2 separate regions of the Homo sapiens genome follow, and region 1 is linked to region 2. Evidence: fine-mapped QTL for protein levels in blood plasma. A gene starts in region 2. The other region holds a variant in brackets. All regions are shown on one strand. Distances are between the middles of the regions.

Evidence for each region. PIP is the chance, under the fine-mapping model, that this variant and not a neighbour inherited with it causes the effect. Protein levels are from antibody-based Olink assays in UK Biobank. Linkage for the fine-mapping came from a reference panel and not from the study's own genotypes, which makes the PIPs less certain.
Region 1: its variant is fine-mapped to the plasma level of the IL13RA1 protein (UK Biobank, PIP above 0.99).

What each region holds. Positions count from the first base shown.
Region 1 is chrX:118,801,031-118,816,385 of GRCh38, reverse strand. It overlaps a transcript of IL13RA1 not described here. Among named protein-coding and RNA genes, the nearest start is that of ZCCHC12, 15 kb to the left of the region's middle. The variant A/C (reference allele first, on the strand shown) is at 10,836.
Region 2 is chrX:118,716,442-118,731,344 of GRCh38, reverse strand. IL13RA1 (interleukin 13 receptor subunit alpha 1) reads right to left here and starts at 3,739. Exons shown (of 11, transcript NM_001560.3): 1 at 3,619-3,739. The coding sequence starts at 3,706. RefSeq lists a silencer at 3,701-4,130.

The DNA of each region.
Region 1 (15,355 bases), 85 kb before region 2:
CCACCTCACACCATGTACAAAAATTAACTCAAAATGAATCATAGACCTAAGTATAAAAGCTAAAATTATAAAAACTCTAAGAAGTCATAGAAGTAAATGTTTGTGTCTTTGAGTTAGGCAAAGCATTCTTAGATATGACACCAAAGTATAAGCAACAACAACAACAACAACAAACAGAAAAACTAGACTTCATCAAAATTTAATTTTTTTTTTTTTTTTGAGACAGAGTCTCACTCTGTTGCCCAGGCTGGAGTGCAGTGGCACGATCTCGGCTCACAAAATTTAAAATTTTTGTGCATCAAAAGACACTGTCAGGGCCGGGCATGGTGGCTCACACTTGTAATCCCAGCAATTTGGGAGGCCAAGGGTGTGGATTGCTTGAGCTCACGAGTTCAAGACCAGCCTGGCCAACATGGTGAAACCCGTCTCTACAAAAAATACAAAAATTAGCCAGCACGGTGGCATGTGCTTGTAATCCCAGCTACTCGGGAGGCTGAGGTAGGAGGATGGCTTGAGCCTGAGAGGCAGAGGTTGCAGTGAGCCAAGATCACGCCACTGCACTCCAGCTTGGGCAACAAAGCCAGACCTAGTTTAAAAAAAAAAAAAAAAAGACACTGTCAGGAAGGGGAAAAGACAATCCACAGAATGAAAGAAAGTATAGGGAAATTATATATCTGATGAAGGATCTTTATCTAGTATATATAGTTTTACAACTCAACAATAAAAAGACAACTTAATTTTAAAATGGACAAAGGATCTGAGTAAACATTTCTCCAGGGAATATATATGATATACAAATGGCCAATGAAAAGATGCTCAACATTATTTGGTCATCAGGGAAATGCAAACGAAAACCACAATTGGATACCATTTTATACCTACTAGGATGGCTATAATTAAAAAGACAGATAATAACAAGTGTTAGCAAGGATATGGAGAAATTGGAATCCTGAAATATTGCTCACAGGAATGTAAAATGGTGCAGTCACTTTGGAAAATAGTTTGGAAATTTCCTCAAAAGGTTAAATATAGAATTACTATATGACCCAGCAATTCTATTCCCAGGTGAATACCCAAAAGAAATGAAAACCTATGTCCATACAAAAACTTTTTTTTTTTTTGAGATTGCGTCTCGCTCTGTCGCCCAGGCTGGAGTACAGTGGCGTGATCTCGGCTCACTGCAAGCTCCGCCTCCCGGATTCACGCCATTCTCCTGCCTCAGCCTCCTGAGTAGCTGGGACTACAGGTGCCTGCCACCACGCCCAGCTAATTTTTTGTATTTTTTAGTAGAGACAGGGTTTCACCGTGTTAGCCAGGATGGTCTCAATCTCCTGACCTCGTGATCTGCCCGCCTTGGCCTCCCAAAGTGCTGGGATTACAGGCGTGAGCCACTGTGCCCGGCCACAAAAACTTGTATACTAATGTGCATAGTGTCATTATTAATAACCGAAAAGGGGAAACCACTCAAATGTCCATCAATTAATGAATGGATAAAAGGAAAGAAGTGCTTTTACATGCTACATCATGGGTGAACCCTGGAAACACTATGCTAAGTGAAAGATGGCCACACAAAAGGCCACATATTGTATGATTCTGTTTATATGAAATATTCAGAAGAGACAAATCCACATAGATAGAAAGTAGATTAGAGGTTGCCAGGGGTTGGGGGTAGGAAGGAAAAGGGAGTGACTGCTAATAGGTACAGGGTTTCTTTCTGTGGTGATGATAATGTTCTAAAATTGATTGTGATGATGGTCATGTAACTGAATATATTTAAAAACCATTGAATTGTACACTTTCAAAGGATGAATTTTAAAGATGTACACTATATCACAATAAAGATTTTTTTAGAAAAAGAATATTTACGGTGTGGATCCATTTATATAAAGTTCAAACAAAGGTGAGCCTAAACTATATTGCTTAGACTTGCATACAGAGATGATCAAAAACTAAAAGAAAGCATGGAACTATTCCTATAAAAGTCAGGCTAGTGGTTCCGCCTGGGGGTGAGAGAAGAGCTTTGATTAAAAAGAGAACCACAGAGGGCTTCTGTGGCATCCTAGTGTTTGATTTCTGATCTTTCTTGGTGGTTACATGGGTATTTCTTTTCTAACGATTTGTTAAAAATCTACATACATGTTTTATGCACATTTCTGTATATCTGTTCTATTTTCAATAAACTGTTAACATTAAACTCATTCACCTGAGTGTATGTGGACTACACTGAATTGTTAAAATATTGGACTGAGCCAGGCTATTGATTCCAGATATTTCAAGAAAAGGGTTCCTAAATTAAGTGTCCGTAAGATTAAAAGAGGGAATAGGAGTGGAGAGAGTGTTGGATAGAGTAAAAAGATTTGACTTTCCTAAAAGACGTGCTTCTTTGGTTCCTGTGCAAAGCACTAAAGATAGGGAAATAGTGGTAAAGCATGCAGGCTCTACAGCAAAACCAAATAGGTTCTGCATCTACCACTTAAGTTTTAGTTTCACAATCCTTCTGGGCCTCAGTTTCCATATCTGTAAGTGGAGATTATAATATCATCTAGCTAAAATGTTACTGTGCATATTAAAGAAGATTATCCTTGTAATACCTTGTGAATATTTTTTTTAGATAAGGGAACTCACTGTTGCCCAGGCTGAAGTGCAGTGGCCATTCACTGTACTCATCATAGCTCACTGTGGCCTCCAACTCCTGGCTTCAAGCAATCCTCCCACCTCAGCTTCCCGAGTAGCTGGGACTATAGGTGCCTACCACCACACCCAGCTGAGTATGTTTTTTGACATGTAAGTGCTTTATAATTGGCATCTGTTATTATTTCTTTCTAAAGCTCGTTATGAGATACATTAATTCTGAGTCCCTGTTGTATGTCTGTTATTGTCCTATTTTCCATTTATTCTAGATACCATACATGAAAATAATACAATTGCATTTTTTTTGAGACAAGGTCTCACTCTGTTGCCCAGACAGGAGTGCAGTGGCGTGATCTCAGCTCACTACAACCTCCGTCTGCCAGGCTCAACTAATTATCCTGCCTCAGTCTCCCGACTACCTGGGATAACAGGCGTGCACCACTACCGCCTGGCTAATTTTTGTATTTTTAGTAGAGTTGGGGTTTCACCATGTTGGCCAGGCTGGTCTTAAACTCCTGACCTCAAATGATCCACCCCGCTTGGCCTCCCAAAGTGCTGGGATTACAGGCATGGTATGTGTAATTGAAACTGACACTCGGAGAGGTTAAGTAAGAAGCCTGGAGTCACACAGCTTTAAGAGGTGGCGTAATGTTTTGAAAACAGATCCGTCTAATTCCAAAGCCTTTGCACTTTCCACGTTTTCTTGGAGTTGAATATAACCATCATTCAGTGGGAAATTCAAATGATGTTTAACCAAATACTGTTTTATTAAGCTATTTATATGACTTAATAGGAGAAAACATGTCCAAAAGCCTGAGAGCTTTGTGTACTGGGAAAGTTTATATAGTGCCAATGTAACATTTCAGAGCAGACGTAAATCTCTTGCGTTCTCTAAATAACACCTGGTAAAGAGATGTTCTTAGAAGTTGCTTAAGTTGCAATGATCTGGCGGGTTTTAAAGTCTGGCCAAACCTAAGGAATATAGCAGTAGGATTTCCAGGTCACAGGAAGTGTATTACCAGCAGGAGAGCACACGCCACCAAATCTGAGGGAGTGCAGAGTCAAACTCCTAATGGGGAACCTGGCATCCAAAACTGTTATTTTGTTAATTCCTCTAATTCTGCCCCAGTTATCTGAACACAGGAGAGTGCCCTCCCAAAGCACCACCATAGAGGGGCCCAGCAAAAAGTCCAACCAATTCTGCATAGCTGCAACACCTCAGAAAATGTAGGCCAGCCTGCTGGTCTGGATTGACTGAAATGACTGAGACCCAAGTAGCCCTTTGGGAAATCATGGTAAAATCATGGTGCTGGGTGCTTCAGAAATCCTTGCTGACTGATCAGCTGGACTGCTGTGGCAGAGACAAGATCTAGAGCAAGTGGGGGAGGAGGGTGGGGTCCAGAGGCAGAAGTCAGGCTGGAAAGCCCTGGGGGCCCACTGGCAAGAGGGAGACTGGCAAGAGGTAGATCAGGATGGTGGCCGTTCCGAATGTGTGTGTGGTGAAGGGAGCATTAAACTACAACCTGGGGCCTGGGTTCTATCGCTCTTGAGTTAATTAATTAATCTCTGGATATATCAGTTCCCCCACCCATAAAATGAAAATAATAATAGGACCTATCTCATTGTATTGTCATGAGGAACAGATGAAATCATGGACATGAAAGCACTGTGAAAACTCTCATGGTATATAGAAATATGAAGCTAAGTGTTCACTTGTTTTGTTTCCTTGTGTAGCCCCAGCACCTGGACAGTGTCTGTCATATAGCAAGTACTCAATAAACATTCATTGAATGAATAATATTGCACTAGAGTTCGAGTACTGACTGTTTAGAATACTAGGTGATCATCACAAGCAAAACTATGAGATGGGTGAAAGTAAGTTCTCGGCTGGGTGCGGTGGCTCATGCCTGTAATCCCAACACTTTGGGAGGCCAAGGTGCCAGGATTGTTTGAGTCCAGGAGATCAAGACCAGCCTGGGAAACATATGGAGATCCCATTTCTACAAATAATAAAAAATTAGCCAGGCATGGTGATGTGGACCTGTGGTCCCAGCTACTCGAGAGGCTGAGGTGGGAGGATCATTTGAGCCCAGGAAGTGGAGGCTGCAGTGAGCCGAGATCATATCACTGCATTCCAGCCTCGGCGACAGAGCAAGACCCCATCTCAAAAAAAAAAAGAAAAAAAAGCAAGTTCTTGCATCCTTCCATTTGGAGCCCTGTCCCCTGTCCCTTGACAGTGCCCTGGAGGTATTAAATATCCAGCATCCTCAGCCACCTCATTTTTCTTCACTCAGCCCACCTTGGTATCAGTGATGAAAAGAATGATAGCTGCCATTTGTTGGAGGCATATTATGTTCTAAGTGCTAAGCTTCACATGCACATTCTCAGCTTGATCTTCAAATCCACCCCCACATTTAATGGCTATTTTTCTTGGGAAAAAAAATACATGCTGATGACTCTAAAGCTCAGTTTTCTCATCTAGGTTGCAAGGCAAATCCTGTTACAGAAACTGACATGATTCCTGTTGGAGTTTCTGTTCCCAGGACTCATCTGGGCTCAACTCAGGCCCAGGCTTGAAATTGTGTGGCAAGGGACCCAACTGCCATAGCCATGCCATCAGACATAGCTATGATTGATGGGGGACAAGGGTCTCAATCTGCGTGAAGGCACCAAGGCTCTGCTATCCTCTTTCACAACTACATGGCTAGGAAACAGCAGCTGTCATTCAAGCCCAGGCAATCTCTCTTCAATACTTTGTGACACTTAAGGAAGCAGATGGAACAACTTGACAAATGGAACAGCTTGTCCAAAGCTGCTCACCTGGGCTCACAAATCCTTCCCCTCAGCCAAGAGATTTTTCATAAAGGAATGCTAATCTCTTTGGCACACTGCCCTTTGCACCCCTACAACCTTAAATGCTGGGTCCACTTAGCAGGTTCAGAACGTTCTGGCAGGCTCTCTCATACCATCCCACCCTCCCTGATTCTTATGTCATAGCCCTATCAGAGTTAGAAATAATACAATTACTTGTAGAATAATTTGATTACCTTTGGACTCCACCAAGTGCCCCTGAATTCCATGAGAGCCAGGTAGAATTGACTTTCTTCTCCACCACTTCCACAGTGCCCAGCTCTGGGCATAGTACAAAGCAAGTGCTCAATCAATATTTATCAAAGAATAAATGAATGAGTGAAGAGTAAGCAAATAAGTGAGATGGAAATGTAGAACAGAATAAATGTGGTAATTGCTCTCAAACCTTTGAAGAGCTTTGCTATGGAAGAGAGAGGATTTTTACTATCTTTTTTTTTTTTTTTGGTGAGAAAGAGTCTCGCTCAGTCGCCCAGGCTGGAGTGCAGTGGTGCCACCTTGGCTCACTGCAACCTCCACCTACAGGGTTCAAGCGATTCTCCTGCCTCAGCCTCCCGAGTAGCTGGGACTATGGGTGTGCACCACCAGACCGAGCTAATTTTTGTATTTTTAGTAGAGATGGGGTTTAGCTATGTTGGCCAGGCTGGTCTCAAACTCCTGGCCTCAAGTGATCCACCCACCCCAGCCTCCCAAAGTACTGGGATTACAGGCGTGAGCCACCATGCCCAGCCCAGGATTTTTATTAACTTTTTATTTAGAAATAATTTAAAAATTACAGAAGAGTTGTAAAAGTAGAACAAATAATTCCCATACACCATCTATGCAGATCCCACCAATTTTAAATATTTTGGCAATTTGTTTTTATCACTCTCTCTCATTACTTACATATTAATGTTCTTTTTTTTTAGGAACTATTTGCAGGCAGGTCACATGCATCATGCCATTTTACTCCCTAATGCTTCAATGCATATTTCCCAGGGACACAGCCATTCTTATAGAAGACCATTACCAAAATTAGGACACTTGATAGTTGATGCAATATTGTAATCTATGTCCTTACTCAATTTTGCCAATTTTGAGTGAGGACTTTTTTTGTTCTGTTTGGTTCTCCAGGGCATAAGGAAGATTAATGGGAAGATACATGATAAAAATGACTTTTTACTCTGGAATTTGAAGATAGATCCAGAAAATTAGAACTATCAATAAATAAAATGGCCTTTCTCCATAAATAGGGCACTCCCTGTTGCTGCAGGGATTTAGGCAGAGACTAGACGATTACCTGTTAGGAACGAGGGAGGGGATATCTCTTATGAATATGAACTACAGAATAAGCTTTTGTGTGTACTTCTGCAGGCCAGGTGAATTATATGCTATGTACTGGGCTTGATTCTCTTTTTTTCACTTATCATTTCTCATGTCGGGGCTGGTCCTTGCGTAGCTGAAGTAACCAACCATGGCATGGGGTTGAAGCAACCTCAACGTTCCATCAACCTGGAAATATTTTCCCCTGACACCTTCTACAAACAGGTCAGCCCTGGAATAATAATATTAACATGTATTATGCACTTACAATGAGCAGGGCAATGGTGTGCTTTGTAAGTGTCAACTCATTAAGTCTCCAAAAGCCGTAAGATGTAGCTATTACTATACTATAATCCCTATTTTACCAATGAGGCATCTGAAGCTCAGGTGGGTTTTGGTATCTTGATTTGGTTCAGGTCTGATGTGTTAAAAGATTTCAGAAATTATGATCAAGTTGTTCAAATAAGTGTATATGGAGATTTTTAAAAAGCAGTTCGGCTGGGCACAGCAGCTCACGCCTGTAATCCTAGCAATTTTGGAGGCTGAGGCAGGCAGATCACTTGACCCCAGGAGTTCAAGACCAGTCTGGACAACATGGCAAAATCCTGTATCTACTAAAAATACAAAAAAAAAAATTAGTTGGTGTGGTGGTGTACACCTGTAGTCCCAGCTCCTCAGGAGGTTGAGGTGTGAGGATTGCTTGAGCCCAGGAATTGAAGGCTGCAGTGAGGTGTGATCACATTACTGCACCACAGCCTGAGCAACAGAGCAAGACCCTGTCTCAAAAAATAAAAAATCGGTTCAATTATTTAAATGAAAAATAAAAATGAAAAGAAATAAACCAAAAGATAGTATTTCAAGACTTCAAGAACATTAGTATTTCTTTGTCTGTTTATACCTATTCCTATTTTCATTAGGGCAGTCTAATTTGGAGGAGTTTTAGGGGGGGTTCTTTATTTCTACATTTCCTGATTTTCTAGTTGTTGTAATTGTTATTTTTTAGACATGTTTTCACTGTAGTTGACATGCTAATTCAGAATGAAAGATCTTCCTAGAGACTGTCCTATGTAAAGCAATTGAATCTCCCTGCTGTATTACCACTGTAGAAGACAGAGGAACAAGGAGGATGGCCCCTTCTTTCCCAGTCTTATAGGTTTCATAGTTTTCAGAACAGTTAATTTCTGGCTAATTCCTACCAATCCTTAAAATTTCAGCTTAAATGTCACATCCTCAGAAAAGTTTTTGCTACCCTGCAAGACTAGGTCAGAATCCCCTGTTACCTGTTCTCACAGCCTCATCGACCTTTTCTTCATCTCACCTCACTACATCTCACTGCATCATTGACCTTTCCTTCATAGCAATTATCACATTTAAAATGATTGTTTTGTCTTTACAGTTAGACTGTAATACAGGTTTCTGAGGGGACCCATCTATTTTTGCTCCCAAATGTATCCTAGTACCTGACACACTGTGGCCACTCAATAAATGTTTGTTGAATGAAAAATGAGTAAATGAAAATCCAGTTCCACTTAGGAAAAAGATGCTAGCAAAAGAAAACATAGAAGAGTAAATTGTGCCCCTGGAGGCAAAAATTCAGTATTCTAGTATCAAAGGTCAGAACCAGGCAGTGATGAAGTCAAAATGAGGGGATTTGGGAGATCCGGCAGAGGGTGGTTCAGGCAAGAACTTTGGTCAGTTGCTAGAGCACAGTAGCAGCAGCAGCATGGAGTATCTCAATCCAGTGCTAGGATGCTGTAGCTGACTGAAAGTATTCTGCTTTCAGGGGTTCAGTCCTTCTGGAAATATGCTACAGAACATGTGCACCCATGGTTTCCTTCATTGGGGACAGAGAAGTAGAACTAGGCAGAAAAGAATTTAAGGAAGAACTATAAAAGGCTTTTGAGAGGAAGGGTCTTGCTGGTTCCAAAATAATGTCCTCTCTCATTAAGTGGCTTTCACAAAGCTGCCATTACAATTTCTACATGCAGCCCCCAGATGGCAGCAGTGTGTTACTCTTGGGCTGCCAAGTTCGTGATGAAGTCTCTGCTTTGACATCTAACCTACCATGCCATGACTGCCCCCAGAGCTAGCTTAGATTTGGGTTGTCCTCACACTGTGCTGAGAGGGCTTGCAATGTGTCTTATTTTGGGAATGACCTCATTGGTCTTTCCCTGGCAGCTGGCTCCCATAACCCTGACTCTTGAAGCTGCCCTCCTCTCATTGCCATCCGTGAGTGTCCCCAACCCTGTAGGAAATCATAACCTAATGGTTCCTCTAGCATACTACAGTGAACATGTCCAAAATGAAATTCGTATTTCTCATCTACTCCCCATTCCCCACCCAAGCCTGTGCTTCTCTATAACATTTTGAGCATCTCCCTCCCATTCATGGAGTCCTGGTGAGTCAACCTCTAAACTACTTCAGATCTGTGTCCTCCTCTCCTGTTTGCCAGGCATGGAGCGGATCCTCTCCACCTCTTGCCTAATCCCTAGGTCATCTGCTTATCTCTGTCATCTTTCTCTCACAATCCATCCTTCCACTCTACTCAAACTCCTTCTGAGGACAGGGATGCCCCCTTTTGTTAATCTCTTCAGATTCTACTCTTGCTTTAATGTGCAGACCAACTAGCACTGCCCTCAAAAAACTTTTCTGGGTATCCTCCCAGCCCCGACACCCCCATCATTTTTTCCACTGCCTGTATACAGCACTTTACTTGGACCTCCTTTCATAACTCTAATTGCTAATATTCTGTCTTGTTGATAATCCATTATTTATATACATAAATATGTCACTCTAGCCCTTAGCCAAGGTGGCAACCATGTGGCACAAGTACATCAACACCCCCCCACCAGTACCCAACAAGAGACATCACTGATAGATCTTAGCCATCTTCCCACTGAGCCCAAACCCAATCTCAAAATCCTTCGGGAAACAGTATTCCAGAAGAACTGATCCACAAAATGAAACAAATTTGCCATTCCTGCACTGGACTATCAGCAATAATAGGACAGAAAGTATGCACTGCACCTGTAGTCCCAGCTACTTGGCAGGCAAGAGGATCACCTGAGCCCAGGAGTTTGAGACTAGCCTGGGCAAAATAGTGAGACACCATCTCAATTTTTTAAAAAAGAAAAGAAAGCATGCTCTATTCTTTGAATCTACTACAGCATCTCGTACACGATCTATATTCGTCAAAAGCCTTCTTGAATGAATTAATAAAAGCACAAAGTGGAATAGCATAGACACTGATCATAGGAATGCTGCTCCCAGACTCCATGTTTCAATACTGCTGCTATGAATATGGGTGTGCAAATATCCCAAGACCCTGCTTTTAATGCTTTTGCATAAATACCCAGAAGTGGGATTGCTGAGTCATATGGTAGATCTATTTCTTTTTCTTTTTTCTTTTTTTTTTCTTTTTTTCTTTTTTTTTTTTGAGACGGAGTTTCACTCTTGTTGCCCAGGCTGGAGTGCAATGGCACGATCTCAGCTCACCGCAACCTCTGCCTCCCAGGTTCAAGCAATTCTCCTGCCTCAGCCTCCCGAGTAGCTGGGATTACAGGTGCCCACCACTACGCCCGGCTAATTTTTGTATTTTTAGTAGAGACGGGGTTTCTCCATGTTGGTCAGGCTGGTCTGGAACTCCCAACCTCAGTTGATCTGCCCACCTCGGCCTCCCAACGTGCTGGGACTACAGGCGTAAGCCACCGCACCCAGCCTAGGTAGATCTATTTCTAACTTTTTGAAGAACTACCATTCTGTTTTCCATGGCTGTTGCACCATTTCACAATCCCACAAATAGCACACAAGGATTCTCATTTCCCCACATCCACACCAACACTTTCTATTTTATGGGTTTTTTTTTATAGTGGCCATTCTAATGAGCGTGAGGTGATATTCATTCACTTTTATTGCTAAGTAGTATTCCATGATGTGACTGTACCAAAAATTGTTCAACCATTCACCCACCCATTGAAGGATATCTGAGTTTTTCTAGTTTTTGTAAATTATGAATAAAACCATTATAAACATTT[A/C]TGTAAAGTTTGTTGTGTGAACATATGTTTTTATTTTTCTGGGATAGAGGCCCAACAGTACAATTGCTGGACCATGTGATAGTTGCATGTTTCGTTTTTAAACAAACTGCCACTCTTTCTCAGAGTAGCTGTACCATTTTATGTACCCACAAGAAATATATGAGTGATATGATTTCTTTGCATCCTTACTATTATTGAGGTGTTGTCATTATTTTTATTTTAGCCATTCTGAGAGGTCTGTAGTAATGTTACCAAAACAGCAGGAGTTCCATCTAGGTCCTGTTTTCTCACTGCACAGAAAGGCAAACACTGAGACAATGAGTATTGCCAAGGAAGAAGGCTTTAATCAGGTGCAGCAGCCAAGGAGACAAGAGATCAGTCTCAATTCCATCTCCCTGACCAACTAAAATTAGGTGTTTGTATAGCAGGGAAGAAGTGAAACCATGTGTGGGAAAACAGGAATTAGGGAGGGATAAGGAAGAGGAGTTGGTCAACAGGAAGCAGTTGGTTTGTCAGCCAATCAAGAAGGGTGAGGGATCTGGCTTCTCACTGTCCGGATGTGGTGATTTGGTGATTTTCAGATCCCGGATACTTTCTGGGAGGCCTGATGGTTTGTTTCCTGAGAAAGGAATTCAGATAAGACAAATGTAACTTTCTCAAGTTTTAAGACTGGAAGGATCAATTTCTATGTTTATTCAAAGAGATCAGAAACATCAGCTCTGTGGGACAATTGGGTTGGTTTCATAGTCACATGGTCTGTATATTTCCCAGTGGTATTCAAGCCAGCAACTTATAGAAAACTGCATGATCAAGTGTAAACTCAGCAGATTTACAAAGCACACACTTGACCACAGATAATTTTTCTCAACCTAACATTCAGACCCATAAGCCTATTTTTCCACCTTGCTTTAAAATTTTCAGTGCATTGTAAAATATCAGAAAAGGATTGCCCCATATTGGTCTTAATTAATCCATGCTGAAGTACTCTCTTTTAGTATCACATTTCCAATTTGTTTATATTGGTCCTTATCATGTGGGAAAAAATTACACAACACAGATATGCTCTGTACTACCATTTGCAAAAACATTCCGTAGACATATTAGAAGTTGGCATTTGTGTGTGTGTGTGTGTGTGTGTGTGTGTGTGTGTGTGTGTATGCATGGCTGTGTTTTTTTTCTGTTTTAAGGAAGACTATGTCTTGGTTGTGTGAGAACTTCTAAGCTTCAAGGCCAAACTTCAGTTTTCACTTCCTTCACAGATGTCTGACTACGCTTATAAAGAATTTCCAGAATTTGTTGGGCACTGTGGCTGACGCCTGTAATCCCAGCACTTTGGGAGGCTGATGCAAGTGGATCACTTGAGGTCAGGAGTTCGAGACCAGCCTGGCTAACGCGGTGAAACCCCGTCTCTACTAAAAATACAAAAATTAGCCAGGCGTGGTGGCGGGCGCCTGTAATCCCAGCTACTTGAGAGGTTGAGGCAGGAGAATCACTTGAACCCAGGAGGCAGAGGTTGCAGCGAGCCGAGATCGCACCATTGCACTCCAGCCTGGGCAACAAGAGCAAAACTCTGTCAAAAAAAAAAAAAGAAAGAAAGAAAGAAAGAAAAAAGAAAAAAAAGAGAGAGAGGAAGGAAGGAAGGAAGGAAGGAAGGAAGGAAGGAAGGAAGGAAGGAAGGAAGGAAGGAAGGAAGGAAAAGAGAAAACAAGAAGAATTTCCAGAATCCAATGGGATGCTAAACAAATTTTTAGTCAAAGCAATCTGGAAGGGAAAAAGAGCTACTTTGTGGCAGCAGGGCTGTATTCATTCCTAAATGCCAATGTAGTACGATTTTAAAGGCCAAACAATCATTTGTTCCCAAATTCTCACCCCTGTATATTACAAAGCATCATTATTTAAAAAATCACCGTGAGCCTTATTGGATCCTGATTCAAGCAAATTGTAGGAAAAAAAGACTTATGAGACAATTGGGGAAATGTAAACACTGACTAGATAATTGAGAATATTAAGCAATTATTGTTTAGTTTTAAAGTGTGATAATGGTATTGCAGTTTTTTAAAACAAAAAGGGTCCTTAGTTTGTAGAGATATATACTAAAGTATTTACAGATGAAATGATGTGATGTCTGGGACTTGCTTAAAAATAATTCGTCATGTAGGAAGTAGGAAATGGGTGGCAGTATAAATGAAATAAGATTGACCATTTTGATAATTGTTGAAGCTAGTTGATGGGTATATGACCATTCACTGTAACAGTCTCCTTACTTCTATATATGTTTGAACTTTCCCATAATATTTTTTTAATCCACCATAAAAGTGGTAGCATGGTTTGGGGAGGCTCCTTGTAATATGAATTTTATCCAGAAATGGTAACCCACAAACTTCTTAGCCCTCCTTGGCTACATTAGCAAAGATGAATTGATCAAACATCTTATGAGGCAGAGGCCACAAGGAACAGGAAATGAGGCAGGACAAGTCTGAAAAGAGGAAGTTAAGAAAGGCTTGGAACATGGACTCTTGCCAGAGTGGACAAGCTATTGCCAACCACTGAACGAAAGGGTTTGAAGTGTAGCAGCTGGAGAGAGGATGCTAAAAGAAAGTAGTAGCCTCCTTAGGGGGAAGGTGTCTTGTATATGCATGTTGGTGGGGGATAGTGGGGTGGAGCTTGAATGTTCAAGGCTGTAAAACAAACTCACCCTTTGATTAGAGCTATCTTTGTCTCCCTTTGGAAACATCATGAAAATAAGACATGTAGAACTGATTCTTAATCCAAATCTCAAGTCAAACAATAACTCAGAATAATTTTCTGTTTTTTCCCCCATTTTCAAATCTACAAGTCTTAGGTCAGCTGCTTGTTTTCTATAGCTGTTTCCATTATTTTCCCAAAACAATCAAAAGTTACTATTTTATTGATTGCGAATGTTAGACCTAAAGGAGCCCTTGTAGATCACTTACTCCTTTTTTTTCACAAGTGAGCAAACTGAAGCTCAGAGAAAGAAAGAAACTTGCCCTGCATCATACAGTACCTAGCTAGCACAGTGCTGGCACATGGTAGACACTCAATAAATATCTGTTGAATCCAGGGTTGATACATAACCTACCAAGTAATTATAGCCAGCATCTGACCTGACTGGTTGGTGCCCATGTCACATAGCTTTAACATCGCCCCCCAACTGAACAGATGAAGGAATGAAAATAAAGTAGTAAAGCCAGATTGTTCTTGACTTGCAGACATTCTTTTTCTGTAATTCTAGTTCTAGTCTTCATGGGGCCCTAAGTGGGCAGGCAGGGCCACCTTTGGCTGCAAAGCTTACAGAGAATCCAGGCCTCCTCTGGACTCGATGTTTGTTAATTGTCCATTAGCCTCCTCAGTGCTCCTAGGTACTGGCCAGCCTTATTTGGGGCTGCATAGCAGGCAGAGTGTACGGCAACCCTCACATGTTAAAGGTTTGATCTGCACTCTCATCCTAACAAAGTAATTAATTGGGGCTCCAAACTACCTATTTCACTGTCAGGGAGTGGATACCCAGCATTATTTTTCCAGTTCTCATCTACCCCAGGGATGAGGGGAGAGTGGAAAAAAGAAAAGAAAAAAGAAAAAAAATACTTTTAAGTGTTTGTAGAAGCATAAATAAGAATTAATGTTGCTAACTGGATTTATACCATAGAATTTTTTTCTAAAAACAGTATAATTGGAAAATGCCATGTCATTACAAATTCACTACAATGAAGGCAAATATTATAGTATGATATTGTAAACCAAGATTGTCATTTTCACATGAGGAGGGACAAGAAATTGGTTCCAGAATAACAGTATGTGCAACCACAACTACCATTTATTAAAGTTCACTGTGCTAAGCATTTTACATTTTATTTCACTGACACCTCACAGCAACGCTAGGTGGTAGGTCCTTTTATCAGCATTTTACAGATGAGGACTGAGCCTCAGGTAGATCAAGTTAAGAAAATCTCCCAAAAAGCAGAACCAAAAGACAAATAAAGGGAACATGGGAGAAAAAAGATACGAAAATTACAGAATCAGTCCAGGATGTCCAATGTACAACTAATAGGAATCCTAGAGATAAAGAAAACACAAGGGAAGCTATTGTGTGAGAAATAATAGAAAGCAATGTCTTAAAAATGAAGCATGAGATTTTAGATTGAAAGGGCTCACAAAGTCCAGCCCAGTAAATGGAAGAAGATCCACAATAAGGCATATCATTAAAATTTAAAACACCAAGAGAAAAGAGGCCAAGAGAAAACCTTGCAGATAAAAGTTACATGTAGAAAATTAGAAATCAGACATTTCTAAAGCAACACTAGAAGCAACAACACATCGGAATAATGCTTTCAACATTCTCAGAGGAAATTGTTTCCAATTAGTAATTCTTCACCTAGTAAAAATTTTAATCATGTGTGAAGATTATATTTAGACAAAAAATGATTTTACAAAAATCATCTTGGCTGGGAGCAATGGCTCATGCCTGTAATCTCAGCACTTTGGGAGGCCATAGTGGGAGG
Region 2 (14,903 bases):
TCGGCCTCCCAAAGTGCTGGGATTACAGGTGTGAACCACTGTGCCTGGCCAGGGTTGCTTTGGTTTTCTGTTGAATTGATATGTGTCCCTGGCCTTTGAGACAGAACAAGTATCCCTTCTACCTGATAAGCTTCCCTTAGGCACCTAATTTCAACCATGTCTTGGGGATTGCACCACTGACTTCAGAAAAGGGAGTAGGAAGGGACCCAAGTATGTCTGTATCTAAACCTCAAATCCCAAGTCTGTACAGTCATCTAGCACAACATCCTATTTAAATTAAGAGTTAACACAATCTACTATTTCATAAGAAGGCATTTTGCTTAGCTTATAGCTTTTGCTCTCGCCTGTCCAATCACAGCAGCTAGCAGAGGCATGCACATTTTGGGAAAAGTTAAGGAAATCACAAGAGTCATATATGAGTCATCTGTCCCTTCCCTTACATCCACTCAGGCATCAACTCCTGTTCGTTTTTTTCTTCCAACATCTTTCTTAGTTACCCCAATCATGCAAATATGCTCTGTTGTGCCCCACCAGGTGGGAAGATACCAGTAAGTCATGGTCCTGGACAGGAAGGGTTCGCAGCACATTTTTCTAGTGGAGACCTGCAACCATAGATTCTTATGTAGCTTCACACTCCAGGGGCTCCCCTACCCAGTGAAGTCTCCCTGCTTGCTTCCTCCTTCTGTGTTATTTTTCCCATGCTGTGCCGGACTCAGAGCTTTCAAGGGCAAATCAAGCTATTCTGCCTGGATTGACTTTACCAATGCACTCTCCTGCCAAGCCAGGTTCCTTCTTGACCACAAAGGAGCACTCTTGCCCTCATTTCTGGGTCTCTGCTCCTGCTATTGCCCCCACCTGGAATAAATTCTCCACCTACTCAAATCCCAGTCATCCAGAAGATCTAGCTCAAGTTTTACCTCTTCCATAACACTACCAACCGTCAGCTTTTTCTCTTTTGAATGCCTATAGTACTAGTTGTTTGGACCACACAGCCCAGCCACTATAAAGCCAGTCTCCAATGTAGTATCATTCGCTTCTTTTTTTGTTTTGAGACAGTCTTGCTCTGTCGCCCAGGCTGAAGTGCAGTGGCCTGATCTTCCCTCACTGCAACCTCTGCCTCCCAGGATCAAATGAGTCTCATGCCTCAGCTTCCTGAGTAGCTGGGATTACAGGCATGTAATCCCACACTCGGCTAATTTTTGTATTTTTAGTAGACGGGGTTTTGCCATGTTGGCCAGGCTCAAACTCCTGGCCTCAAGTGATCCATCTGCCTCAGTCTCCTAAAGTGCTGGGATTACAGGCATGAGCCACTGCACCCGGCCTAATATAGTATCATTAGCTTCTTAACAAATGGCTTGCACATACTTTCGTGGGTCCCAAGCCGTCCTGCCCTGCTACCCTGGGAGGTGTCCAGCTAAGGACTCTCGTCTTTTCTGCTGGGCAGAAGCAATGAGTACAGTGGTTAAGGGCATGGCCTCTGGAATCAGGCTGCCAGGGTTGGAAACCTAGCTCTTCCACTTTGCCAGGTATGCGAATTTGGGCAAGGGTCTTGGTCGCACTGTGCCTCAACTTTTTCGTGTACAAAATGGGACTAATAACAGCACCTACAAGTTATATTATTGGTAAAGATTAAATGAAATAGTACAAGTAAAGCAGCTAGAAAACTGCTGGGCATAAATGCTATATACATGCTAGTTATAATTAAGACATGCCACAATGTGGGCCATTGAGTGGGACAGGTTAAACTAAGCTAGTAATCTAATCACTTTTATAAACACTCTGAGGATTAGAGCTGGAGGAGCTCTTAGAATTTATGCAGTTCAACCTCCTCATTTCACAGATGAGAAAACTAACTGCAGCACAAAAGAGAGGAAATGACCAGCCCAGAGTCCCACAGGTGGTAAATATCAGAACCACTAAAACTCAAGTCTCACTGGAAACATCTAATTTTTTCCCACCATACCTCAATGCAATTCTATCAATACTTTTAATGGGGAAAGAAGTTTGTTTTCTAAATAAGCAAGCTAACGACAAACCATTGTGACAGGACTGATGAAGTTGGGAGTTGCCAGTATTCTCTAGATGGCCAGCTGTTGTTTCAGGTGTGTGTGGGAGTGAGTCTGTAGGAGGGAGGGTGCTGGAGTGGCACTGTGAAAATCAGGAGACTAATGAGACGGGTAACTTTAGACAAGTTCCTTCCCTTCTCTGGACTGCAATGTCCCCATATGATTACGGAAATCAGGTGTACCCAACTAAACTAGAGGCCCTTTTGGGGCAAGAATTTTGCTATACACTCTCAGGTTCTAAGTCAACCTAGAGGGCCTGACTCAGTACTAAATAAGGCAGACACCTGAATAATTATTGACTGACAAGCTTCAAGTCTCCCTCAGGTCTCTACTCAAATGCCACCTTTCAGCAACATTTGTTTTCTTCTCGATCCACCCTTTTTACAATGGCAAACCCCTTCCCACCTGCTCTGTTTTTCTCTACTTAACACCCTCAGACATATCATATATTTTACCCCCACCCCCCGATATGTCTGAGGGCAGGCACCTCATCTGTTTTGCTCACTGCTGCATCCTCAGCCCCTAAACACTGCCTGGCAGCATGTATTTTATTGACTGAATCCATAGAGGGCATTAAGGTTTCCTAATCAACATTTCAACTTGGATTTCAAAGCACATTGGTAAAAATGCAATAAGCATATATAAGTGTTTGTGTCAATGTGATAATAAAACCTATACAGTTTGGGGCTTTCATTGTCACCAAAAACGTCCAGAAGGCCATTCCTTCCAGGAGCTGCTCCTAAGGAAGTCATTAACTCCCAATTTTTCACAACTGCCAGGTTGATTAACTAGAAGTTACCAAACAGGGTGAGGGATATACACAACTCTCTGAAGTATCTTTGCAACTTTTCCATAAATCTACAATTACCCTAAAATATAAGGTTTATTAAAGAGAGTGGGGTGGGGGGAGCATCTGCCGGGATGCTATTCTGGATTTCCCAAAGGATTTCTTCGACGCCAGAGGAGGTCATGAGCGTCACGTCCTTTTTCAACAAGGACTGAGATGTTTAGAGGTTCCCTTCAACTTCCACTCGCAAGAGCCACCCTTAGACAGTGAGGATTGGCGCGGCCTCGGGCAAAGAGCCCCGGCGCGTTCTCAGCTCGCCTGGACTTCGGTCGTGGTCCCCGCCGGCTCTGGCGCCTCATTTCCTCCCGGGCTCACAGGCGACATTCCGGGCGCTGACCCACGGCCCTCTGACGCCGTGGGCATGTTTCGGGCCCCCCGCCCCCGCACGCCTGGACGCCAGCCTCCTGGGCTCTTCCCACTACAAGTCGCAGCCCTCTTACTTCGCTGCCGCCACCTCCGCCGCACCCGGAGTTCGGGAAAACCCCGCAGCTCCCGGGTCCCACCTCGAACCGGCCCCAGTACCGGGCCCCAGAGATCCCGCGCGGGAAGCCGCAGCCGCCGAGCGCGGGGCCTCGCGAGGGCAGCCCCCAGCACCCACCCCAGCTTCGGCCCTCCGCCCGGCGTTGACCTCCGGGGCCTTTCAGCCGTGACCCTCACCGCCCTCAGCCCTCCGGCCGCCCCTCGGGCCCCGAGGGTCGCACTCACCCGTAGGCGCGGCGCCCCCGCCCCCGCCCCCGCCGCCGGCGCAGAGCAGCAGCGCCCACAGCCCGCAGAGCCGCGCCGGCCACTCCATGCAGCCTCTCGCCTCGGAGCCCGGCCGGGCTGGAGCCTTGGCAGTCCCCGCCTCCTTCGCTCCCTCTTCCACTTCCCGGCTCCGCCGCCCTGGAGGCTGGGGGCCGGCGCAGACGGGAAGGGCCGCCCCGCCCACCGGCCTCAGGTAACCTGAGCCGGCGAGAGCGGCCGGAGGAGGCGGGGCGGGGCGCCGGCGGCTCTGGCGGCTCTGGCGGCTCCTACGGCTCCCAAGGCTGGACACCTGGCCCACCCGCAGCTCCCGCGTCCGGTCTCTGACCGAACAAAACTTCTTCCACCACGTCGCCGCCCACTCCGGGCGCTGCCTGGGCCTCCTCCCTCCGCGTGGCGGAGCCGGCGTCGCCGCTGCCAGCACACTTGCGGGGCCTCGGAGGTGCTAGGGGCTGTGCCCTGCTGGACACCAGGACAGAGTCATCTGCGGAAAAGAGCCTTGGCCTGGGAGTCTGGAGACCTGGCTTCCAGCCCTTGACCTCTGAGCCCTTGTTTGCTAGCGCTGACTCCAGGGTTAGTAATACCAGCCCTACTTCACTGGGTGGAGTTGGGGACACTGGCAGTACTGTGCTTTGTGAAAAGGACAAAGGGCATATTTGAAAGCTGGCAATACATAATGTTGATTTTAAAAGGAACATTCCAAACATGAGGGAGGATACCATACGTGCATTTTTTAAAGCACACGACAAACTTTCTACATATTTTTCAAAGGGATGGGAGGTGAATCGGAAGAATACACATTGATACTTGGGCGCCTATGAGGGTCAGTGAGGCTGGGAGGAAGGAAAACAAGAGTCCTTAGGCGTTTCCTGTTGCTGCTGTCAAAAATGACCACAAATTTAGTGATTTAACAGTTTTATTTTATTACAGTTCTGGAGGTCAGAAGTGACACTGAGCTTAAATCAAGGTGTGGGCAGAGATGTATTCCTTCTGGATATTCTAGGGGAGAATCTGTGTCTTTGACTTTTCCAGCTTCTAGAGGCTACCCACATTCCTTGGCTTGTTGCGGAACTACTCAGACCTCTGCTTCCCTTGTCGTATCTGACTCTGACCCTCTTACTTCCCCTTTTCCCTTATAAATACCCTTGTGATTAGATTAGGTCCACCAGATAATTCATAATAATCTCCCCATCTCAAAATCCTTGATTTAATCATAACTGAAAAGTCATTTTTGCTATGTAAGTTAACATATTCACAGGTGTTGGGGATCACGATATGGAATCATGGGAGGGGGACATTATTCTATCACCTTCTCCCAAAAAAGAATCATGTCTAGGTGGATGATGAGACCCATAATGAGGTGTATTTTGGCCGAATTAAGCCAATGCATATACCTGAAAACAGTTACAAAAAGTATAGCAATAAAAATGCTGATAATATACCTAGTCTAGACCCCACCCAAAGGGCACAGGGTTGTTTAACCTATTCACAACAAAGGTTCCACTCTTGGAATTAAGGCTCTCAAACTCAATAAATATTTATGAAATTGTTCCAGGAACTGTTGAAGACACTCACCAAAAGCAAGCTCTGCTAACAGAAAGCTGCAGTCAGTCTGAGGGGCAATGATAAGGGCAAGAACAAGGAATTATGGGATACAAAAAGGGTACCTTTTGGGAGGGAAGGAGCAAGGGAAGCTTCCAGGAGGAGGGCCTGCCTGTGCTGAATCTCAGGATGTTGATTCTTTTGGCTAACGGTTCAGAATAAATTCCAGAATCCAGGCATGGTGGCATGCACCTGTAATCCCAGCTATTCTGGAGGCTGAGGTGGAAGGATCACCTGAGCCCAGGAGTTCAAAACCAGCCTGGGTCTGTAACAGAGTGAGACCCCGTTCTCAAAAAAAAAAAAAATAAATCCTGGCTTGCATGTGTTATCGAACAAAATAATGTTTATGAAAACAGTTTGTAAAGTATCAAGGCCTGTAGAACTGAGAGATAGTATCATTATTTCTAAATCCCTCCCACAAATAGGTCAGCCACTGTGTATCCCAAGGCCTTTCCTCCACCACCACGGACATATACACTTGTTGACATTTGCTATAAACATTATACAATAAGTTTATAATAACGTTTCCAAAATGGTTATGTCATCTGCCTTTTAAGGAGTCTTTAGTTGGAACAGGAGCCCCTGGGGACTGGCTGAGTGCCATCATGGGCACTGCTTGGCATAGATTGACCAAGCGCTTAATAAAACAGTAATGGTAGCAAATGATTAGAAAAATAGGGATTGCAGCTTGTCATGAGCTTCCAGAAAAGCCCTGAGAATCTGAACATCGTGAGGAAAAAAAACAAACGGCAGTGTGGAGAGGGGAGAGACCTGATTTCTTTTCACCAAGATAGTTCCGGCCTGCTGGCCTTAAGACTATATTGTTACTTTCCTTTCTTCCCGACCCTGAACATCATGCAACGATTTTTCAAATTTTTGGAAGGGGGTGGAAAGAGTCAGGAATGCTGTTTCTTCAACATAAAACTTGTATTTGTAATCTCCGTGTAGTGTGATTCGAAGAGCGTCTTGGATTGAATCAGGCCACTGCCCTGGTCTGCAGGAAGAATGAAGACAGATAGAAGGCTTTCCAGGAACTGCAGTAGACAAGGAGCTTTCAGTTTGGCTTTGTGTAAATCAAAATCATGATGAGTCAACATCAAGTTTAACCCTTAGAGTCCTGATGACTTGGGTGCGAGACTACCAGTGGCCTTTCTTTCACTTTGGCCCGGGGTGGCTGGAGTTCTGCGCTGCCCTGTGTACCTAGGCCACTCCACTCAACTGTTTTGACCTTTGCCCTTCTCACTAAGTCTTCGTCCATTTCTGTAACTGGAGGCTGAAAAGGGCATATGCAAGAAAATGTCTGGCAGGAAAGAATGATGTCCCTCTTTCCAAAGTCAGGTGTCCTTCCATCCATTTAGAGACACCTTCCTGAGTCCAAAAGGGACACAGACACCAGCATATTCCAAGGGCTTAGCTAAAAGTGCTGGTCCCTTAGACAAAAATCTCACAAAGAGTCCTCTAAGCAAAACCTCACACCACTGCAAAACAAAGAAAAAGGAGAAGTTGAAAACAGGGAATTTCCCTCCCGATTCTGGATCAGTGGCCCCCAACCAGGGGCAATTTTACATCCCAGGGGACATTCGGCAATATGGAGAGATATTTTTGGTTGTCATGACTGAAGCGGGGGCATGCTTCTGGAATGCAGTGAGTAGAGGCTGGGGATGCTGCTGTTAATACAATGCACACGACCGCCCCCACAACAAAGACTTACTCTACTCAAGATGACAACAGCGCCAAAGGTGAGAGAGATCCTAAGCTAGAATACTCTTTGTTGTCTTTTGTATTTGGTCCCCACCCACCCACTGTCCCCCATGCCTGGCCAAAATTAGAGATGAATGCTAAAAGTATGTACTCTTGACAACTCCCTTTCCTGTATCTCGTACCCCCAGTTCCCCATCCACTGTCTAGTCCTGCAGTCACTGATTAGATGGTAAAACATCTCTCAGATCTATTCCTCCCCCGACCACCCAGTTTCGCCTCTATGGTTCTATTTCAGGACTTTATTACCATTCCAGAAACAGTCTTCAAACTGGCCATGAGGGTCTACCCTTTACAAGACAGATCTTCCCAATGAGCAATCTGTCCATGTCACTCCTCAGCTTAAGCTTAAGTGACACCCCTCCCTTCATCAAATGCCACAAAAGGCAGTCTCAACTCCTCTGCCTGCAGGCTTGCCTCTTCAGGTTAGATTCCCCACACTCTTCCTAGCTTCACTTCCAGCCAAGCTTCCAGGTTCCAGGTGGCTGACTGGCCACCTTCAGGCTGAATCTCCCTTGTGAGCAATTGTGTTTGGTCCATATCATGTTGGAATTCATGGGGATCTAGATGCCAAAGTGTTTTTTTTAAGTCAGGAGATTTTGCCTAAGGCCCCAGATTTCCAGCTTCTCTTAATAAATCAAAAGTCCTGGTAATATTGGACCTGTTTCAGTGTAGAAACCGTCAGCAGATGTCAGATGGGCTGCCACCTTGTTAACAGGGCATGTACTTCCTGTCTGCACATGCCCTAGGGCTCCCTATTGCTCCCTGGCCTAGTCAGCGTTTCCTCACTTATGACTTGCCCGGTTCTTGTTTGTCACCTGTGATATTTTCTCACTGCAAACCTTTTATCTTGCTGTTCCCTTTATCTAAAATGCTTTTCCATTTCTCAAGTGTCACATTTTTTAGGGGCTTCTCTAACTCCCAAATGCAAAATTCTTTGCTCCCTCCTGTGTGTGTGCTCATAGCACCAGACACGTTCCTCTATCATATCAAATCACACAGAGGTTTGTGTGCATGTCTATTTCTGCCACTGGATTCAAGCTCCTGGAGGTCAGACTGTCCAGGGTGACTCCAGGTTTTCTACCTAGGAGGAGCTTAGTGGTGGTAATCTGATTGGAAGGAACAATCCCCAGGGGCCTTGTCTTGGAGCCATGTATGTACAGCAAGAGCTCTACTCTTACTTAGATTCTGAGTGGATTGAGTCGGGGGAGCTTGGAGAAAGGCATCCTCTGGCACCACAGAGAATATAAAGATGAATGGAACATGGTTAGTGGCTCATAACTCATTCTCAATGTTTGGGTTTAATTGAATTAAAGGTCCTTGCTCTTCAGCAGGTGGTTTTCTTCTACAGTTTTAGTGGAGTTCACTCAAGGGAGTGTTGCTTGCACAAGAGGCCACTGACAGGACCCTTTGGGTTTTGCCTGAGAGTAGGCACGCTTCTAGGTGACTGGGTCAGTGTCCTGAAACCCGTAGACCTGTGGGCCTCCAAACTTTACAGCAGGTTTTTTTTTTTTTTTTTTTTTTTTTTTAAGATGGAGTCTCGCTCTGTTGCCCAGACTGGACTGCAGTGCAATCTCAGCTCGCTGCAACCTCCACCTCCTGGGTTCAAGAGATTCTCCTGCCTCAGCCTCCCAAGTAGCTGGGATTACAGGCACATGCCACCATGCCCAGCTAATCTGTGTATTTTTAGTAGAGATGGGGATTCGCCATGTTGGCTAGGCTAGTCTCAAACTCCTGACCTCAGGTGATCCGCCCGCCTTGGCCTCCCAAAGTGCTGGGATTACAGGCGTGAGCCACTGCACCCAGCCTACAGCAGTTATTAAATTGACTCTTTAATTCAACAAGGCACTCCCTTTACCCAGAAATCTCCAATGCTAAAGTCCTCAAGATGGCTTCCAAGGCCTTACCCTATCTGACCCCATTATCTCTCTAACCTTCTCTCCTACTGCTCTCCTTGGCTCCCTTACTCTCCTCCAGCAACACTGACCACCTGGCTGTTCTTCACACAAGCTAAGTGCACTCCTGCCCGAGGGCCTTTGCCTTGACTTTTTCTTTGGCTATTTGCTCTCTCCCCGTCAAGATATCCTCATGCCTCACTCCCTGGCTTCTGTCAGATCTCTCACTGAGACCTGTCCTGGCCACCCCATTGAAAACTGCAAGCCCCATGGCCACTTCCTTTCTCTCCTTCCGCTTCCTGGGTCATTTGCTGTCTCCACTAGAATGTAAGCTCCATCAGGGCAAGAAGTTTTTTCTGATCGGTTCCCAGCTGGATCCCCAGCACTCAAAACTATATGTGGCACATAATACATGCTCAATAAATATATTTTAATTGAATAAATAAATTGTACATTTTTCTAGGTGCTGTGAGGAATACCAACCAACAAACCAAAGGCCTGCTCTTAGGAAACTCCTGGTCTAAGTTGTGGAAAGGTATAGAGAGCAATTAGAGAAAATGTAAAAAGCAAACAAACAAAAATGGTACAAATGCTCATCTGTGATATGGGTTCAAAGAAAGGTGACACAGGCCTGTGCTTTTGAAGGTTTCGTACAGTAGATGGGAGTTGAACTAGACCTTGAAGGATGACCAGAATGAGAGAGGGAGGTTAGGAGGAGAGAGAGAGAGAGAGAGAGAGAGCAGTCAGTTTATGGCTTGACCTCATAAGCAATAAGAAGTCACAGCAGGCTTTTTACAAACAAGATGCTGACATAATACGTGGTGTTTTGCTTTCTAAGATGAATTACCAAGAGTTTGTTAATTCTTGTCTGGAGGTAAGAAGGCCCAGGAAAGAATATTTGAGGTGTTGGCAGCCAGGGACAGGGCCAGCCTCCAGGCAAACTGCTGGCTCCATCAGTCAGAGCCCAGGTGCCAGGAGGCTGATTCTTCCCTGGGCAAAATGACTTGGGGTGCTGCTCTACACAGGAGCATGTTCCTGGGGCCTGGAGCCCCTACGCTCTCTTGCTCCCCTTGAAAGCATTCATTATTCCTTTCAGAAGCTCCCTGGCCTCACTTCCTCCAGGCTGCCAACCCTTCCTCTCTGGAATTGGCCTTGCTCTGTTTTCCAACACTTCAGTCTCTGAAAGAGGAAGGGCCTCTGTGTCTTAGCATCCAGGTCCCCTCCTTTGGCTTCTGGCTGCGTTGCTATCATCACTGCCACTACCACTACCCTGGCATCTTAGCCAGGATCCCCTACAACCTTTTCACTGCACTTTCCCCACCCTGGATCTAAAACTCTATGTAGGGCCTGTCCCCTGTTCTGGTCCAGGCAGGACAGGTCCAATCCTTGTACACTTTACCAGCCCCGTTAGTGCTTTGCCACTCAGTTCCCTGGCGTTAGGATCTCTCCTCGGCCTTAGGGTTCCTCAGTTTAAACATTCACACTTTGGGAGGCTGGGGCAGACAGATCACTTGAGCACAGGAGTTCCAGACCAGCCTGGGCAACATGGCCAGACTCCATGTCTACAAAAAATACCAAAAAAAATAATAATAATTAGTCAGGAACTGTAACATATGCTGTAGTCCCAGCTACTCTGGAGGCTGAGGCTGGAGGATGGCTTGAGCCCAGGAGGTGATTGTAGTGAGCCGAGATCACGCCACTACACTCCAACCTGGGCGACAGAGCAGGATTGTCTCAAAAAAAAAAGAAAGAAAGAAAGATTCAAATGCTCCATTTGTGTGTTAGTCACCTGCACCTTCTTGCCTTGAAAGGTCTCCATTGTTTGCTTTGAAAGTGTAGGGCAATTAGTATTTTCATTTAAACAAAGAAGCCTCTAGTCCCTCTTGCCCCAATCCACAACACCTCTCCAAGGAGGGGGCTCTTTGCATATCTGTAACTCCACCCCATTAATGCTGTCATTTGCATATCCCAATAGCATCCCCAGAGGTCACTCTGCATATCTAGCTATTGGACAGATCCCTGTGCAAGCACAGAATTGAGGCCTCATTTGTGGATTGGAAAATACCAGGCTTCTGGAGGAGCAGCAAAACCCACCCCAGTTCAGTCCCTGCATAAACCCATCTTTCCCATAGTCGTTGACCTGGACTGCCTTTTCCGACCCTCAGTCATAGAGCAAGTTGACTGCAGTGTGACCTCATTGGCATCCCTGGTGCTATGCTGCACCAGCCTTGCTACTTCTCAGCCACAGAAGCAAGGACCCCTCCTTAACTTCTTATTCCCAGTTTCCAGGATGGTACCAATCTTTGCGAGTGTGATGAGGTTTGCTTTATGTCACAACATATAGTTTGTTTTTGTAAATGTTCCATGAGTGTTTGAGGAAAATGCATATTCTCCAATTACTGGGCCCAGTGTTCTATACGTTCCATTAAGTCAAGTTTGTGGATTGTGTTGGTCAAATCAACATACTTGCTGGTTTTTTGTTCCTTTGGACCTGCTAATTACTGAGGGTGTTAACGATTCTCACTATGATATTATGAGGGTGCATTTGTCAAATTCTTCTTATAATTCTGTTAATTATTGCTTTATATATCTTTTTCGACGCTATTTCATCAAATACACGCAAATCTAGAATTGTTATAGTTTCCTCGTGAACCAAACCACTTATCACTATGAAGTACCTTTCATTAATGAAGTACTATTCTTTGTCTTAAAAGTGTATTTTGACTAATTTATTATAACTTCATTAACTTTCTTTTGTTTAGTATGTACCTGGTACATTTTCTTACATCCTTATTTTCCTTTCAGTGCAATTATGTTTTGGGTCTGATCTTGGGAACAGCATAAAGTGCAAATTCGGTTTTTTCTATCCAATAGGCAATTGTTGTCTTTTAACTGTAGACTTTAGTTCACTTAGATTTACTTCTTTCTTTTTTCTTAATTTAGTAGAGATGGGGGGGTCTCCCTACGTGGCCCAGGCTGGTCTTGAACTCCTGAGCTCAAGTGATCCTCCCACCTTGGTCTGCCAAAGTGCTGAGATTACAGGCATAAGCCACCACACCCAGCCAGACTTCTAATATATTTATACTTATATCTACCATCTGATTCTGTGCTTTCTATTTGTCCCATTTTTCTGTTTCTTTTTATCTTCTTTCTAGAATTGTGTTAAATGTTGTGGGCATTTTTTTTTTTTGGCCTTTTTAAATAACAAGAGCATGTTTTATCTTTTGTAAACCAGGCATAATGCTATAATAGTGCCTACCACAGGGTTTATTGTAACGATTAAATGAGATGAAGAAACTGACATAAAATGCTTATCCAGTGCCTAGCACATAATAAGCACTAATAAATGGGAACTATTATTAGAATTTCTAGTACTCTTTCATCTTTACAGTTCCCTTGTCTCTTGAGGTTCCGCTTCTGTTGTTCTCCTTTCTGCTGACATTGTCCCATTTGTTCTTAGTCCTTTTTCTTTCATTTCTCCTTTATTGCCACTCAATTTCCTGTTTCCTCTTACCCTTTCATCCCCAGGCAAGCTACATGCACAAGCTGCAATGATGAAGCCCTTTTGGGGAAGAGAGTCAATGTAAAGGGGCTTGGTGGCACAGCAGGGACAGGATCAGGGAGGAGTGCCTTGTCTACTGATCCCCACTCCACAAGCTGGCAAAGGTACACATAGCCAACGCTGGGCACCACTCCTGGCTGGCCATGGTGGAATTAGATCAGCTGGGATCACCGGTTTTTGTGAATGAGTTTAAAGGCCATAGCGTTCACCAACTAGGATACAGTTGAATTCCTTAGCACCTTCATGTATGAAGGATAGCTGGATCCTCACTCTCCACTCTCAAGAAGTAGGGCCGGGCACGGTGGCTCATGCCTGTAATCCCAGCACTTTGGGAGGCCGAGGCGGGCGGATCACCTAAGGTCAGAGTTCGAGACCAGCCTGGCCAACATGGTGAAACCCTGCCTCTATTAAAAATACAAAATTAGCCGGGCGTGGTGGCGCATGCCTGTAATCCAAGCTATTCGGGAGGCTGAGACAGGAGAATCGCTTGAACCCAGGAGGCGGAGGTTGCAGTGAGCCGAGATCGCACCATTGCACTCCAATCTGGACAACAAGAGCAAAACTCCGTCTCAAAAAAAAAAAAAAAGAAGGAGCCCCGCTGTGGGGGAGTGGGTCTCACCTCACTAGGAATTTGTGTATGCACAGGCCAGAGCCTGGAAAGAGGAACCATTTGTACTCAAACACATTGTGGTCAGAGGAAAATTTTGTCATCATTGTTGTGACAGAGCCGCAACTAAATTTAACAAGCTGTGTATTTTTGTTTCCTTCATGATGCATGGAGAAAGCAAAACATTTTGTTTCCAAAAAAGCAAAAACTCTTCAAACAAAACAAAACGACAACAAAAAGCCTTCTTCTAATTTGGTATTTGATTGCTGTAGAGATTCCTTTCTCTAGTTGCTTTAGATTTTGCTTTTTCATGTCCTTTGTAGCATGACGTACTTTCAAGATTCATTGTGTCACTGGAGGAACATTGGCACTTGGTGGAGTTTTGGGTGCTTTTCTGTTTTCTGGTGGTTTCCACACTTGGATTGAAATAAACAGAGGTGCCGAACTTCCATATTTCAATCGAGTCTCACGACAACTTGAGAGTCCAATATTTTGATGACAACTCAGCATGTGCTATCATTCTTCACGGTAAATTTTAAATAGACACTGTTGGTAATTTTTGAAATTTCTTTATTACAAAACTACAATGTCAACTTACAAGGTAGATGAAATGCAATATATTTCTGACTGCTTGCATCTACAATAACAAAATGCCTCTATATTATTCAGAAGTTCTAAAAAACAAACTATATATAATCTATCGTATCTATCTTTATCAAAGACAATGATACTGCGAGCATAGAAACAGGAGCAATTTGGTATTGACAGGTGACAGCATGCTGGCAGTCCTCAGAGCCCTCGCTTGCTCTCAGCGCCTCCTCTGCCTGGGTTCCCACTTTGGCGGCACTTGAGGAGCCCTTCGGCCCGCCGCTGCACTGTGGGATCCCCTTTCTGGGCTGGCCAAGGCCAGAGCCCGCTCCCTCAGCTTGCGGGGAGGTGTGGAGGGAGAGGCGTGAGCAGGAACCAGGGCTGCGCACAGCGCTTGCGGGCCAGCTGGAGTTCCGGGTGGGCGTGGGCTTGGAGGGCCCCGCACTACGAGCGGCCGGCCGGCCGGCCAGCCGGCCCCGGGCAGTGAGGGGCTTAGCACCCAGGCCAGCGGCTGCGGAGGGTGTACTGGGTCCCCCAGCAGTGCCAGCCCACGGGCGCTGTGCTCGATTTCTCGCTGGGCCTTAGCTGCCTTCCCACGGGGCAGGCCTCGGGACCTGCAGCCCGCCATGCCTGAGCCTTCCCCCGCCTCCGTGGGTTCCTGTGCAGCCCGAGCCTCCCCGACGAATGCCACCCCCTGCTCCACGGCGCCCAGTCCCATCGACTGCCCAAGGGCTGAGGAGGGCCAGCGCATGGCGTGGGACTGGCAGGCAGCTCCACCTGCAGCCCCAGTGCGGGATCCACTGGGTGAAGCCAGCTGGGCTCCTGAGTCTGGTGGGGACGTGGAGAGTGTTTATATCTAGCTCAGGGATTGTAAACACACCAATCAGCACCCTGTGTCTAGCTCAGGGTTTGTGAGTGCACCAATGGACACCATGTATCTAGCTGCTCCAGTGGGGCCTTGGAGAACCTTTATGTTTAGCTCAGGGATTGTAAACACACCAATCAGCACCCTGTGTCTAGCTCAGGGTTTGTGAGTGCACCAATCGACACTCTGTATCTAGCTGCTCTGGTGGGGCCTTGGAGAACCTTTATGTCTAGCTCAGGGATTGTAAATACACCAATCGGCACTCTGTATCTAGCTCAAGGTTTTGTAAACACACCAATCAGCACCCTGTGTTTAGCTCAAGGTTTTTGTGAGTGCACCAATCGACACTCTGTATCTAGCTGCTCTGGTGGG